Regions from separate parts of the Homo sapiens genome. Here region 1 is linked to region 2. A link means that fine-mapping ties the variant in region 2 to the expression of a gene that starts in the linked region. Tissue or cell type: subcutaneous fat. Region 2 holds a variant in brackets; the other region holds the start of a gene. All regions are shown on one strand. Distances are from middle to middle.

Region 1 (8,106 bases), 46 kb before region 2:
TGATCAAGCAATTTTAGCCAAAGGGCATTTTTCCAAAGGCTGTGTTATATTCATGTCTTGTTCAGTTTATGGTATTGTGTAACATATTCTCCATAGCTTCTTTTCTTTTTTTTTTTCTTTTTCTTTTTAGACGTGGGGTCTCGCTATGTTGGCCAGGTTGGTCTTGAACTCTTGGCCTCAAGCATTCCTCCTGCCTCAGCTTCCCAAAGTGCTAGGATTACAGCCATGAGCCAATAGTAGTAAAATGACTTTTTGTTTTTGTATATGATTTTTACTTTAAGGATTTTTTCCTTCCATACATTTTAATCCAAATTATATGTTTACTGCATTTCTTCTCTGTGTTACTCCAGTGAACACTTAGAAAATACATAAATGAGGGTGTTGTTTAGAAATAAAATTTTGTGACATGAAAATGTATGTAAAACAATGGCAGGTACAGACTAGGTTCTCTGTAAATAGGAAAATGGAGTGTCCTTGTAAATCTTTAGTTCAATTAAAGTACAGGGATACTAGATGGTGAAATGAAGTCTCTTAATATGGAAGTTATCAAAGATCAGATGCTTGAAAATCAAGCGTGTGGAGGTTAACCAGCATCTGGAGAAGTAAATGAAAATACAGTTAATAAGAGAGTCCCCAAGATATTAATTATCATTTATGCAAAGGAGATAATTTCTCTCATTGAATCCCTGGAGGCAATTCAACTTCCTACTGTGGCTGGTATTTCTTTTCTGAGCCAGAGGATCTTACAGCAAAACATGATATTTGTGCAACTTTTGCAATGACAGCTGCCATTTAATATACTCCCCTTAGATTTGTTTCCATTTTAAAAAACTGATATATATTCTTTAATAAGTGATTTATCTTTGCATATATATTTTATATCAATCACATTTAGAGTAAGAATCACAGTTATTAATGCTTTATGTGTAACAACTGAATCATCAGCTCCTGAAATAAGTATTAATGATATTCTCATTTCAGAGGTGAGGAAACTTAGGACAGATAAGCAAAATAATCAAATTAGGCTGGGCACAGTGGCTCATGCCTGTAATCCCAGCACTTTGGGAGGCCGAGGCGGGGGGATCACCTGAGGTCAGGAATTCGAGACCAGCCTGATCAACATGGTGAAACCCCGTCTCTACTAAAAATACAAAAATTAGCTGGGTGTGATGGCGGGCGCCTGTAATCCCAGCTATTCGGGAGGCTGAGGCAGGAGAATTGCTTGAGCCTGGGAGGCGGATGTTGCAGTTAGCCGAGTTCCCACCATTGCACTCCAGTCTCAGTGACAGAGCGGGACTCCATCTCTCTCTCTCTCTCTCTCTCTCTTTCTCTCTCTCTCTCTCTCTCTCTCTCTCTATATATATATATATATATATATATATATATATATATATATTTAGAAAATGGGTAGAACTATGAAGAGACATTTCACTGAAGCAGTTATACTGAGATAAATAGGCACATAAAAAGATTTCCAACATCACCATCCATCAAATCTCAGATCTCAGCATATTCTGCTTTAAAAGACTCATCTTGTCACATTTCAGTAAGAGGCAGAATCGAGATTTGAATCCATGTTGTCTGGTTGCAAAGACAAAGCTTTTAATGATGATGCTACAGTAACAATGCTAGTTATTTTTGTCCTTTACTCACCATCTATACCTATTTTGTTAGTATCTCTTGTAATTTTTAAATGGTTTATCTTCATATATCATTGTGATTGTGGTAACTTTGTATTAAATCTATATTTTTATAGATCAATTAAGTCTATATTTTATAGATCACTATTGCGTATGCATCTTACCTAAATGAATGACAGAGACACTCATTACCACATAATCCTGTAAGAACGATTATCCAATCTTTCGAAGGAGGCATCCAGTACCTGAGGTGTTAGTTCTAGTGGTGGCCAGGCGCTGTAGCTCACCCCTGTAATCCCAGCACTTTGGGAGGCCAAGGGGGGTGGATCTCCTGAGGTCAGGAATTGGAGACCAGCCTGGCCAACATGGTGAAAACCCATCTCTACTAAAAATACAAAAAATAGCTGGGTGTGGTGGCGCGTGCGTGTGGTTGAAGCTACTCAAGAGGCTGAGGCAGGAGAATCGCTTGAGCCTGGGAGGTAGAGGTTACAGTAAGCTGAGATCACACCACCGCACTCCAGCCTGGGTGACAGAACAAGACTCTGTCTCAAAAAAAAAAAAAAATCACTAATAATGACAAAGTGCATATTTCTTGAGCTGAGAATATTTTTGTATCTGTGTTTCCATTGTTCGTTTCCAAAAACAATTACAGGTTGCTAATACACATCAACTGGACTGTTCAGTAGAAGCTCCTGTGTTTCTCATGATCTCTGACAGCATCCAGGGGTTCACATGGAGAAAGCAGAATATGCTGAGGTCTGAGATTTGATGGATGGTGATGTTGGAAATCTTTTTATGTGCCCATTTATCTCAGTATATCTGCTTCAGTGAAATGTCTCTTCATAGTTCTATCCATTTTCTAATTTGATTATTTTGCTTTTTTTTTAAGTCGTTCTAGGATTCTTTATACATTCCACATACCAGTTTTATGTCAGATATATGGTAGGCAAATATTTTCTATTATTCAGTACTGTATTAGTCCATTTTCACACTGCCTAAACCCTCCTGTGACAACCTGAGACTGGGTAATTTATAAACAAAAGAGGTTTAATTGACTCACAGTTCCGCATGGCTAGGGAGCCCTCAGGAAACTTACAATCATAGAGGAAGGCAAAGGCGAAGCAAGGCACGTCTTGCTTGCAGCAGGAGAGAGAGCGATCAAAGGAGGAACTATCACAGATTTTTAAACCATGAGATCTCCTGAGAGCTCACTATCATGAGAACGGCTTGGGGAAAACCACCCCCATGATCCAGTCACCTCCCACCAGGTCCCTCCCTCAACACCTGAGGTTTATACTTGAAAATGAGATTTGATGGGGACACTGAGCCAAACCATATCAAATACCTTTTCTTTCATCGTCTGAAGGTCTTTCACAGACCAAAAGTTTTTAATTTGGTAAATACCAGTTGATTTTTTTTTTCTTTAATGAATCATGCTTTTGCTGCTATGGCTAAGAATTTTTGAACAAGCTCTTGATTCTTACGATTTTATTGTGAGTAATTTTTTCTTTCAGTCTCCTACAGGATACCATTTTATGGTTTGATATTTTACATTTAGGCTATGGTCAATGTTGAACTAATGTCTGTACGGTTGTGAAGTTTGAGTAGAGATGACTTCTTTCCTGCTGTGGATATTAAGTTAGCCCCTCACCAGTTTTTAAAAATTCTTCATTCAATTCCCTTGGTAACTTTGTCAAAAATCAGTTGGAAGTACCTGTAGAGGCTATTTTTGTACTCTCTTACTGTATTGCATCAATCCATATGTCTTTTATTGCCCCAAAACCACACAGTTTTTATTACCTTTCCTATATTGGTAGTCTTGAAATCCAGTGGAGTGATTCCAGACACTTCATTTTTGTTTTTTGGTAACTTTTATGGATCCAATCACTGCTAGTTTTGGATTCCCCACCGAAATCCCAGTTCCCGGACTGCTAAGCTGCAGGAGACTCCCTAGCAGGATCGGGTCCAACCTGCAGGCAAAATAGTTTTAACATAAACCGTTTTCAACTTGGTAAGTGGAAAACATTTTGGTTTCCACCATAAGTGGCCCACACAACTCTGATTTTTTTACCTTAAAGCGGCGCAGACCCCGCCCACTCCAGCCATTCCTTCAGGCTGCCCGGGCTCTTCTCTCCGCGCATGCGCAGTTTCCTACAGGCCCGGAAACGGATCGCGTTGGGTGAAGGTGACGGCGTCGAGCGTGAGTGACCCTCTGTGTAGATTAAACCTGCGCTCCCTGTTTCCCATTTCCACAGCCGATGTCCAGGGTCGATACGGCCCTTAAAATCCCCGTACACTCCACCCCAGGTGAATACAGGCCTCGCAGTGTGGGTCCGGAGTCGCTTCCCTTTGGGTTGAAGTCGCTTTGAGGCTGCTCCCCGTCCCCGGCCTTTTGCTTCTTCCTCCCGCTTAAAACCTTTTCCTGACCCCCTCCCCCATCCCCGGGCTTTTTAAAGTCTTCACCCAAGAGGTGTATTCCCGTCCTGGGTGCCTCCCAGCCTTGCCCTCGTCGGCCCCTGGAGCGCAGCGCCGCAGCTGCAGCCGCAGTCCCGGGGAGCCTTGCGTCCTCTGCCTGGTCCTGGGATCCTGCAGACCCCACCCCTGTCTGAAGGCGCTGTCGCGCCCCACCTCCCTCCTCCTCGTGCCGGGCCCCGCTGCTCCCCAGGCCTCCCCTGAGCCCGCGCTGGGGAGGTGCTCAGGGCCTGTCCTGTGACACCCGATGTTCTTGCCTGCCCTCCTCCACCCCGTGGAAAATGCGCTCCTCCAGGATGCAGGCGTCTTACCCCAAACCGTCCTGTGAATGTGTGGGCCAAAGGGATCGAGGGACAGAGAGAGCAGTAGAAAACCTGAGACAGGAAGGAATGAGGCAAACCAATAAACAGATGGCAAAGTAGAGGATGGTTAGAGATTTTCAGAGACAGTAAGAGTGGAAGAAGAAGCCGAGAAAGTAGCAGGGAGAGAAAAGTAACTAGACACATTTCGAGAAAAAGCACAGTATCCAGAGAGATGAAGGACAGCCAGGTAGGGAGAGGGGCAGCAAAGGAGGAGGCTCCTCAGACAGAGAGTGGGGGAGAGCAGAAGGGATTTGGAGCCAGGGCAGACAGGGCAGTGTGGTACCGGGACAGCAAGAGGGGGCAGCCGATGACAAGGAGAAGCAGAGGGAGAACCACAGCACGGGGAGGCCTGGGATCTGGGGGTGCCAAAGAGTGGGGACAACGGTGTGTAACAGGGAAGAGGGAATTTAACAGGGAGTGCTGAAATGGGGAAGAAAGAGCCAGAAATATGTGGAGACTGGGACAATGAAAAGATTAGGAAGAAAGAGGAATTAAATACATTGCAAGAATGGAAAGAGCAAGTGGAAGAGAAAGAATAGAGGGAAGACGGGGAGGAGCAGCAGGAGAGGAGAGGGGCTCAAAATGAGCAGAATCCTAGGGAGAAAATAAAGGGGAAGGAAAGAGCTAGAGAAAGAAGGTGAGAATGAGAGCGATGTACGGAACGAGGGAGGGAAACACACCATAATGAGGAAAGAGGGGGACCCCAGGTCCAGGTGAGTTGTGAACTGACTGGATGTGATGACTACCTTTTGACCTGTTGATTTCTGTCTTTATAAGTTTAAAATGCACAGATGATGAGAATTGCAAAGCTCCTGTCTATTAAGGCTGGTGCATTTTATAATTATGGCATCAGAAGTTAGCTTCCACTTGCAATCCCTGTTAAGGCAGAGGGAAGTGACTTGACTCATTAATTCCACAGGTCATCCTCTTCCCCTTCCCTGGCGTTGGGGCAGGGGGAGGGGAAGGGGGAGTGGGAGAGTAAAGCTGGGCAGAAAGTGAAAGACTGTCACTACATAGTGTCTCTCTAAAGCAGGGGTGTCCAATCTTTTGGCTTCCCTGGGCCACATTGGAAGAAGAATTGTCTTGGGCCACACATAAAGTACACTAACACTAACAATAGCTGATGAGCTAAAAAAAAAAAAAAAAAAAAAAAAAAAAGTTGCAAGAAAATCTCAAAATGTTTTAAGGAAGTTTAGGAATTTGTGTTGGGCTGCATTCAAAGCCTTCCTGGGCTGCGGATTGGACAACGTTGCTCAAAAGGAACATTAAAAGTGTTGAGGCTGGGCATGGTGGCTCATGCCTGTAATCCCAGCACTTTGGGAGGCCGAGGTGGGTGAATCACAAGGTCAGTAGTTCAAGACCAGCCTGGCAAAGATGGTGAAACCCCATCTCTACTAAAAATACAAAACTTAGCCAGGTATGGTGACACGCATCTGTAATCCCAGCTACTCAGGAGGCTGAGGCAAAGCATTGTGTAAACCCGGGAGGCGGAGGTTGCAGTGAGCCAAGAGCCGAGATCCGGTGACAGAGCAAGACTGCGTCTGAAAAAAAAACAAAGAACAAACAAAAAAAGTGTTGTTGCTTTTTGTAATTGATTTGCTTTTTTTCTTACTAATTCCCTTTCATCTCATGTATAGTTCATTTTGCAACTTGAGATAGATCTTCATTAATTCAGTTTCTATTTTTCTGTATATAATTATTTCCAAAGTAACTTTGGTGGCATCCTATAATCAGCTCATGGCATTTTCTAAATATAATGTGTTTTCAATTTTTTTAGCTCCAAAATTCATCAGATATTTCTTAACAATTTCAAAATCTTTCCCTTTGAAATTAATTGTGTCCAGTTTTGATAGAGGTCTGCATGCTTTCTGCTCTTTATTATATAATAGAAGCATTATTTGTTGACTAGTAGGTAATTTTAGATTGTTTCAATGTGTACCTGATAAAGATGTCAATGATGTTTTTACCTTAACATGGAAACCTAGTTTAACTAGTCTATTATTCAATTTTCTTCTTTTGTGTAATTTGTTAAAATAGTAAGCTGTGAGCTGCATTTGGAACCAATGTGATAAAACCTTGAAGAAGTTTCTTTTGCTCAGATATGTGAAAGAGGGTCTGGGAATTTTCTTTTTTTCTTTTCTTTTTTTTTTTTTTTGTGAGCTGGAGTCTTGCTCTCTCACCCAGGCTGGAGTACAGTGGTGCAATCTCGGCTCACTGCAACCTCCGCCTCCCGGGTTCAAGCGATTCTCCTGCCTCAGCCTCCTGAGTAGCTGGGATTACAGGCACAGGCCACCACACCCGGCTAACTTTTGTGTTTTTTGATAGAGATGAGCTTTCATCATGTTGGCCAGGCTGGTCTCAAACTCCTGGCCTCAAGTAATCTCCCCTCCTTCAGCCTCGAAGTGCTGGGATTACAGGCACGAGCCAACATGCCTGGCCAGTCCTGGAATTTTCTAAGGGAGATGTGATAAAGGCAAACACAGCCCATTGGCCCTTCCAGGTCGTGACATCATAATTCAGCCACATCTCCTCCTTCTCACTCAACTCAGACCTCTCAGGATAACTTGGTGAAATGACTCCCTCTCTCAGCCTCAGTGAGCCCACCTGTAACAGAGATAAGGGACTAGACCAGAAAACCTCAATGTGAGCAACACTGACTCCTGAAATTTGGGGCAAAATTGGGTGTGCATTTGTGTTTGGCAGTTGTATGTGGGGGGACTAGCCAGTTGCAATTAAAATTTTTATTTGGATTTCTTCCTCTAAAAATGAAAACAAGAATGTGAAGCAGGGACTCAGACACAGAGACCATCTTCGGGGCCTTTCTCTGTATGAGGACATCACAGAGAAATCTAAAGCAGGTCACGTCAGTCCCTGGCAGGGAACCCTCCACCAGCTTCCTGTGTTCCCCAGGACAAAAGCCCAACTCCTCACTGTGGCTCCACAGCCCTGTGTCCAGGGCCCCTGCCAGTGTCCAGCCTCCTCCTGGGAGCTTGCCCTCATCTCATGACTCCCTCTGCACCAGTCACATTTGCTTTTCTCTTTTCCCAAATGTCAAAACCCTTCCTGTCACGGGTCGTTGTCCCTGCTTTTACCCTATGTCCCTAAATGATCGTGACCCTGTCCCTTTTTCCTCCTTCGGGTCTAGACTGAGAGATGTCTCCCGTGCCCTCCCACCCCCATCTGAAATTCTCTCTGCCCGTCACTCTCTATCACATTATTCAGGTTTCACTGTCTCCGCATCCATCACCACATCGGACACTCTTCTGCGTGGATTATTTTGAGTGTTTTGTGTCTCCCTCCATTGGAGGACACAGTCTCCATCTGGGCCACGGGATGACTGCAGCACCTGCTCCGGGGTTGTGGTTCAGATGCTGGGGCTGGGGTTGGGCTGAAGACTCCTCAGGGAAGACCAAAAGGACAGGGCGGGTAGTGAGGATGGTCTCATATTCTGGAAATTTCATCTGTAATTGGTCTAAACTTCCTGTGGCTATTTATTCCAGTCTATGTAAGAGCAGAAGGCCTCACTGAGGCCTGAAAAGCCCCGCAGACCCTGTGTCCTCAGCCAGTGCCGAGGCGTCCCCACCGCCTTACTCCAGCTCCCGGGTCTTCCACGCTCTACACATCAGCGGGGC
Region 2 (8,106 bases):
CTGCTTAAAACCCTTTACTCACTTCCCACCCTGTGCCTTGTAAGGTCCTCACCCGCGAGGTGCATTCACCCTTTGGGTCCCCTAAGCCTCGCCCTTCATTGCGTCTGCACAGCAGCACCGCAGCTCCGGTGCAAGAGAGTCCTCGCCCTGGTCCTGGGATTCCACAGATCCCACCCCTCCCCTGAGACACCCTCCCATCTTGCTCTCATTGAGCCTTGCCCTCTATCCTGCAGGCCTCCCCCTCATAAGCATGGCTTCCTCTGACCCAGCGTTGAAGGAGGTGACTTGGGCCTGTCTGTTCACCTCCAATGTTCTTTTGTCCCAGATTCCACTCCACTAGGAAAAGTGCTTTCAGTAGGTGGGCATCTTATTCCATCCCCTTCCCTGTAAATATGTGGCCACAGGGGATCAGGAGAAAGAGAGACAGGAGAAAGAGGAAATAGAAAAACTGAGAAGGAGTGAGAAGGACGGGTGAGAACCATGAACAGATGGCAACGCAGAGGATGGGTGGGGAATTTGCAGACAGACACTGAGAGTGAAAGACAAAGCTGAGAAAGTGTGGGGCAGGGAGCAACTGGAGAAATATAGAGAAAAGCTGGGTCTCCAGAGAGATGAAGGACAGCAAGATAGGGAGAGGGGCAGAAAGGGGGAGGCTCCTCAGACAGAGAGTGGGGGAGAGGAGGAGGAATTTGGAGTCAGGGCAGACAGCAATGTGGTGCTGGGACAGCAAGACGGGACAGCTGGTGACAAGGAGAGCAGAGGGAGAACCACAGTATGGGAAGGCTTTGGATCTGGGGGTGCCAGAGAGTGGGGACAAGGGGTGTAACAGGGAAGAGGGGATTTAATAGGGGGAGCAGAGGGGGAGCAAAGATGAGGGAAGAAAGAGGCAGAAATATGTGGAGATTGGGATTGGGACAATGAAAAGTTTGGGCAGAAAGGAATAAGAGGTGGAAGAAGTTGTAGGAATGGAGCAGAACAGGGGGAAGAGAAGGAATGGAGGGAAGAAGGGGAGAAAGAGCAGGAGAGGAGAGGGGCTCAAAATGAGGAGCAGAAACCTGGGGGGAAACATCGGAAAAAAAGAGCCAGGGAGGGAAGGTGAGGATGAGATATGTACAGAATGAGAGAGGGAAACACACAGGAAGGAAGAAGGAGGGGACCTTGGTTCAGGTGAGTGGTGAGTTGATTGAATATGGGTAATTTAGTTGTGACATGTTGATTTCTGTCTTTATAATCTAACAGATTTTAAATATGCTTAAAATACACAGATAAAGATGAGAATTGCAAAACTTGTCTATAAGGCTATGCATTTTATAATTATGGCATCAGAGGTTAGCTTCCACTTGTAACCTTTTCAGCCAGAGGGCAGTGACTTGACTCATTCATTTGTGGGCCACGCTCTTCCTCCATTTCCCTGGGATGGGGTTGGGTAGGGGCGAGAACATGAGTTAATGTAATACTGATTACATAATATTTAGTATTATATGATGCTGATTATAGTCAATATAATAGTGTACAGTCAATGTAATAGTGAACACTCCACACAGAAAACTCATCACCAAAATGTGGAGGAACTTCTTCCCACCAGCAATGCATTTTCCATCCGACACTAACTGGGTGAACTTATACTTCAACTCAATTCTGACACTGTCCAGCTAGAATTAGGATCAGATGCTGTTTACTGGTTGGTCAGTTCCACAGGGCTACCCCCACTTCAAATGCCGGTCACAAGTTGCAGGTTGGGACCTGAACTTCTGGGCGACCAACTGTAAATTGGGGATTCACTTGACCCCCCTCCTCAGGTTGTAGTAATTTGCCACGGTCATTCACCGAACTCAGGACAACACTTAGTTTACTCATTTATTATAAAGTATGTTGCAAAGGACACAGATGAACAGCCAGATGGAAAAGCTGTGCTAGCTAGTTATTCAAACCCAAGGAAAGTGTTAGGGAAGCACATTGACCAGGTCAGTCAGAGCGTACAGCATATGAAGTGAGGGCAGTCCTGTGCGACTGAACCCTCAAGCTGTGGTGTCTGATTCTGTTTTGTAGACGGTGTCAGAATTGAGTAAAACAGCAGGACTCCCTACCTGGGAGTCTGCTGGAGAAGCTGTCATTGTGGGGACAATGACACACATTTTGGTGACTAGAGGTGAAATATTCTGTGTTAGAGTGTCAGAGTAGTATGAACAATTTTTTTCCTCTCTGAACAGATCTCCAATGCATGATAAAGCCTTTTTTTCTTCTACTCTTCCATCTTTAAGACAAAAAAATACTTTCAACTACATTTCCCTCTGTAATAAGTACCTATTTGTGCTCTATTTAAGAGCATAATATTCTAAAAACTAGTTTTACTTTGTCTTCAATTCTTTTTTTTTTTTTAAATAAAAATATAGAGACAGGATCTTGCTGTGTTGGCCAGGCTGGTCTCAAACTCCTGGGCTCAAGTAGTCTTTCCACCTCAACCTCCCAAAGTACTGGGATTACAAGCGTGAGCCGTGTGCGGCCACTTTGTCTTCAATTATTGCTTAAACCTTTGAATTGTTGCTTGAATCTAGCTTTCACATCCAGCATTCCACTGATTCTTCCTTTTTCAGTCATCAGTGACCTCCCAATTCCTAAATGCCGTAATTCATGTCCTGTCCTCATCTTTTTCTTCCTGTCGGTAGCATGTAGCACAGCTGATCACTTCCTCTTCTGTTATCTTGGCTTTTATGACACCCCGTTAACCTTTACAAATCTATTCAATCTTCTTGCCACTCTGATCACTTTCTGCTTTCCTCTTCTGGTGTCTCCAGAACTTTCTTGTTCTCTGAATGTGCAAGTGCTCATGGCTCAGTCCTTACACCTCTTCTTGTCTCCGTCCACACCCACTGCCTTTCCGTACTTCTCATCTCATGGCTTTATGCCCCACCTGTTAATACTCAGCCCCATGTACCCTGCAGACCCTCCTCTGAGGTCTAGAATCCTGTGTCTAGTTGTCTCCAAAACTCTCTACAGGGATGTCCCAACAGGCATCTCCATTTTCATATGCCTAAAAGTGACTTCTTGGCTGGGCACAGTGGCTCATGCCTATAATCCCAGCACTTTGGGAGGCCGAGGCAGGCGGATCACCTGAGGCCAGGAGTTTGAGACCAGCCTGGCCAACATGGCGAAACCCTATCTCTACTAAAAATACAAAAAATTAGCCGGGCGTGGTGGCGGGCGCCTGTAATCCCAGCTACTCAGGAGGCTGAGGCAGGAGAATCGCTTGAACCCAGGAGGCGGAGGCTGCAGTGAGCCGAGATCACGCTACTGCACTCCAGCCTGGGCAACAAGAGTGAAACTCTCTCAAAAATTAATTAATTAATTATTTAAATAAAAGTGACTTCCCAAACTCCTCCAAACATATTCACCCCTGCAGTCTTGCACATCTCAGCTAAGGGCAACCCTGTACTTCCTGGGGCTCAGCTGAACTTCTTGTCATGTTTAAAATATGCAAGATACTATGTTGTAAGTGTGTTACTTTGTAAAATGAAGAAAAAATTAAGCATTTACTTAAAACAGGTGAGGAAATACATGGTTTCATAAATTTTTTTGACGTATGGGAGAAAGAATGTTTGAAGACCTCTCCCTGCGTGATCTGCACCCTCAGGACCTCTCAGACG[C/T]CATCTCCTTCCTGTGTCCTCCCAGCCCCCTCTGCTCCAGTCACACAGGCCCCTTTCCTTTTCCTGGAGCCAAGGTTGCTCCTGCCTCAAGGCTTCCATGTGGGCTGGCCCTCTGCCTAGAACTCCCTGGCCTCTCAGCTGCAAGTGACAAGCAGCCTTTCTTCCTGAGGTCTTTGTTCTGACATCACTTCCTCCGTGGAAACGTTTGTGATCTCCCACAGCCTCCTATTTGACATTGCAGGCCCACCTTCACCCCCACCTCTGGTCCATGTTGCCTGTTCTGTGTGATTCTTTTTGCTCCTTCAATATCCAGTCTGGATCCTGGTGAGAACAAGTCCCCAACAGGAGAGCAGAGCCAGAAGGTGGGGCTGTGCTGGGCTCACCCCCTCAGTGGAGCTCAACCCTGGCTTCATATTAGAGTGCCTAGGCGTTTTGCAGAAACATCTCTTGTGCCCCCTTGACGTATTTTCATTTCAGTGTTTTAGAGCCCAGCTGAGTAATATTTAAAGTTGACTCTATTCTGTAGCCAGCATAGTACCAATCACTGTCTTTTGTTTCTGAAGGCTGAGCTCAGCCTGGGATCCACAGAGAGGTGAGGGGGGCTGTGTTCTGCATGGGGTTTGGTCAGGGCTGGGTCTGTGTCCTAAAGGGGAGCTCAGTCCAGCCCAGCTCCCCACTGCTGCAGTGTGTGTGGGCTTCTCCAGGAGGAAGGTGGGTTCTGAAGAAAGGGGTCAGAAACTCACTTCTTCCTGTAGGAGTTTCTCGTCCCCGTATTCCCCCTGGTGCAGTGGGGCGCAGAGGACCATCTTTCCACAGGGTGAGATCTGTGCGTGTGACTGTGGCACATGAAGGGGATGTATAGATTCTCAGCCCTAAGCAGCATATTTTGGATATTCAGTATTGACTTCTAAAGACTCTTTTATGTTACCCAAGGAAGAAGTCTGGAAGAAGAGGAAGAGGAAAGAAAAGGAGTCAGGGATGGCCCTTACTCAGGTAAAGTGATACTCCTGGTGGATTGTTCTTTTATTTCTTCCTGAAATGCCTGGCATTGGCATTGCGAATCTTCTCTGAGTCTGAAGCGTCCTGCCTGACATGTTTGCTAGCACTCACCCGCGCCTTCCCTCAGTCCCTCTCATCTCGTTTAGATTCCATCTCCCGTGATCCAGTGACATGAACTTGGGAAGAGGCTGCACTGGGCATGGTCCTGGGAAGGGCTCACACCCAGACATGGATGGAGACGGGGTGAGGGTCCTGTGGTGTCAGTGCTGTTGGGCAGCAGGGATTGCTCAGGGGCCGCATCTGGATGCACTGTCAGCGCTGTGTAAACCATGATAACAGAAGCTGCCCATGAAGTCAGGTGCACACGTACCTGCTCACTGGCATAGAAAAGAACACTAAGGGGAAAGCTTTCCTGCCTCATTGGTAACTGCATTTGAAGCCGAACAAGTGAGTCATTGGATTTCCGACTCCAAACTCGTAAAGACTGGGAACAGAATGGAAAGTTTAGACACTGACATTGGAGATAGATGATTCTTTCATTCCATCATCCATTTTAATGTATGACGTCAACATAAATGTGTAACAAGATTCATTAAACTAGTCTCAGAAGCTCTATCCCATGGAGACTGTGATGTTCTTACAAGAACCTTTGTCCGTCGGGTATTGTAGGTGAGAATGGCATATAAGCAGAACAACCTTGCCATTAGAGAGAATGGAACTGTATTTTTGTTTTACCAGTTATGAGTCAACATTTTGTTTCTTTTATTTTGAACATGGCATCATGTATATATTTCTTTTATAGTGAAATGATACATTTATGTGCCAAGAGGTAAAGCATCCCTTTTCCTGTCCAGCCTTCCACCCTCCCTCACATCTTAGTGGGGAGCCACTGTTCTCAATTCTGTGGGAAGGGTCAGTGCAAGTCCTGTAGAAATGTATTTTGACATCATTATGAGATTTAAACAAATTCCTCAGTGAATGTTTGGTTGTGATATGTTAACCTGCAAGTTTTGAACATTGACATGTTTTCGTGTTAGGAAACAGGAGCTCACTTTTCTACATCCTTGTTGGAGCATGCTGGGAATGAAGACAGGTGGATCTTTTAACTTTCTCACTTCTATAAAGAATGCCACACAGGGTGCTGCATGGTGGCTCACACCTGTAATCCCAGCACTTGTGGAAGCCAAGGTGGGAGGATCATTTGAGCCCCAGAGATTGAGGCTGCAGTGAGCCATGATAGTGCCACTGCACTTCAGCCTGAGTGATAGAACAAGACCTTGTCTCAAAAAAAAAAAAAAAAAAGGTGCCACCCTGGCTGCCTGTGACCATGCCGACTTCACTATGGATCGTGGAGAGTTCCTCCAGGCTGGACGATTGGAAGAGTGATCTCTTCTAGGATGGCACATTTCCTGTGTTGCTAGATCTGGCAAGATTCTATCCCTACCCCAGGTGCAGAGGTGCCCTCTCCCACCAATGCCACGTCAGATTTCCCCCTCATTAAGCAAACTTGCCACTGTGTTCATTTTATATTATGAAAATGCGGGGATAATGCAACCCATTTTATTTTCATTTTCTTATTCCTTGTGAGTCTGAGTGGGTTGCATTACTTTGTGGATGTGTATATATGAAATGAATTTTTATACTTTGCTCCATTTTCTGTTCCTGGAATTCAGGAGCTGTGTTGTATTCTGCGGTTTATTTTCTTTTTAACTTTTACTACATTTTTTGAGACAGGGTCTCACCCTGTTGCTGGAGCGAGGCCGGAGCACGGCGGCTCTGTCACTGACATGCAGGTTCAGTTGCTCGCTGCTTGCAGAGTCCAGTTAACAAGAGCAAGGTCTGGTAGAAAGACAGTGACTTTTTATTCCAAAGCTAGCTTAGGGGAAGAAGTACAGGCTTCCTGCCGTAAGGTACTGCATTGCTTTTGGAGCAGAAAGCAGGCGCTTTTAAAAGGCGGGCTTGGCATGAATGGCACTAAGGAGAGGAAGCGAGCAGGTGGGTGTCCCCCTAACTTGCTTCTGTGCCTTACGTACCAGGGGGTTGAGCTGGCAGCCACTGGTGCCTTCGTGGGCAGAACTGGGTTGTAAAAGTGGCTGAAACTCTCCGGGTGGGAGAGAGTTTTGTAGCAGGACTTTGGGTTGTAGATTGATTGCTGTTTCTCGAGGTAACCTCCTGGCAAGTGAGATTCCCCTCTGGAGCTCGAAGCACATAGTTGGATGAACTTGCCCTGTAGAGAGTGTCTGCTGAAGGGGAGGTAAAAGGTTATAAGTGTATTTCTAAAGGGCTAAGTAGGAAGTAGGGAACAGGGGAAAATGGGGAAAGGAGAAAATAAGAGAAAAAAATAATAACTCACTCCCTTTTTCTTAGAAAAATGAGCGTACTTGGTTACAGTACAGTCATGGCTCACTGTAGCCTTGACCTCCTTGGCCTAAGCAATTGTCCCACCTCAGTCTCCTGAGTAGCTGGGACTACGGTTGTGTGCTGCCACACCCAGATAATTTTTTATGTTTTTGTTTTTTGTAGAGACAGGGTCTCACTATGTTGCCCAGGCTGGTCTCAAACTCCTGGGCCCAAGCCATCCTCCTGACTGTGCCTCCTAAAGTGCTGGGATTATAGGCATGAGCCATTGTGCCCGGCTTGGTTTAATTCTTTATATACGCACTGTTGTCTTCCTTTCGATTACACATTATTCTACTGTAAAAATAATCTTTCGTTGCTTACCCCTTTCTCAATTATTTGTTCAGTTTATCTTATTTTGGAAGGCCTTAACGAAATGAAATGGTATGCTTTATCTTTATCTACCAGTGGATTGTTCACATGGCCTTTGTCTTTGACCCAGTTCCTGGCATATACAGCTCCTAAAATCTATAGAGTTTCCTAAGTGTTGTCTTTTTGCATGCTGATGCATTGACTGATAGCTGGCAGCCTCCAACAAGCTTCAGGATGGGGCCTGAGTTGCCAGAATATCCAAGGCAAGATTGGAAGATTGGGGCTTTAAACTCCACTCCTCAGCTACCAGGGAGGGGGAGAGGCGACGAAGGTTAAGTTGATCACCAGTGGCCAATGGTTTAATCATGCCTACTTCATGAAGTTTCTATGAAAACACAAAAGCACATGGTTCAGAGAGCTTCAGTTTAGGTGAACACGTGGAGATTCCTGAGGGTGGCATACTCAGGGAGGGCATGGAAGTTCCAACCCCTTTTCCAATACTTCACTGTATGCATCTCTTCATATGTATTCATTGTAATATCCTTTATAATAAATGGGTAAATGTACATAAAGTGTCTCCCTGAGGTCTGTGAGGTCTAGCAAATTAATTGAACCCAATGAGGGAGTTACAGGAACCCTGATTAATAGTCAGTCTGTCAAAAGCACAGGAAAAACAACCTGGGGCTTGCTGTTGGCGCCCGAAGTGGGACTGAACCCTCAACCTGTGGGATTTGCCACTATCTCCAGGTAGATG

What was found. PIP is the estimated chance that this variant, and not a neighbour inherited with it, causes the effect.
Region 1: ZNF415 starts here. The variant in region 2 is fine-mapped to the expression of ZNF415 in subcutaneous fat (GTEx, PIP above 0.99). The same link has a PIP of 0.9 or more in breast, lung, visceral fat and whole blood.

The regions. Positions count from the first base shown.
Region 1 is chr19:53,128,590-53,136,695 of GRCh38, reverse strand. ZNF415 (zinc finger protein 415) reads left to right here and starts at 3,786. Exons shown (of 4, transcript NM_018355.4): 1 at 3,786-3,840. It overlaps ZNF347 (zinc finger protein 347), which reads left to right. Exons shown (of 5, transcript NM_032584.3): 5 at 1-1,761.
Region 2 is chr19:53,082,793-53,090,898 of GRCh38, reverse strand. It overlaps ZNF160 (zinc finger protein 160), which reads left to right. Exons shown (of 6, transcript NM_001322131.2): 3 at 4,578-4,637. The coding sequence starts at 4,623. Among named protein-coding and RNA genes, the nearest start is that of ZNF160, 17 kb to the left of the region's middle. The variant C/T (reference allele first, on the strand shown) is at 3,645.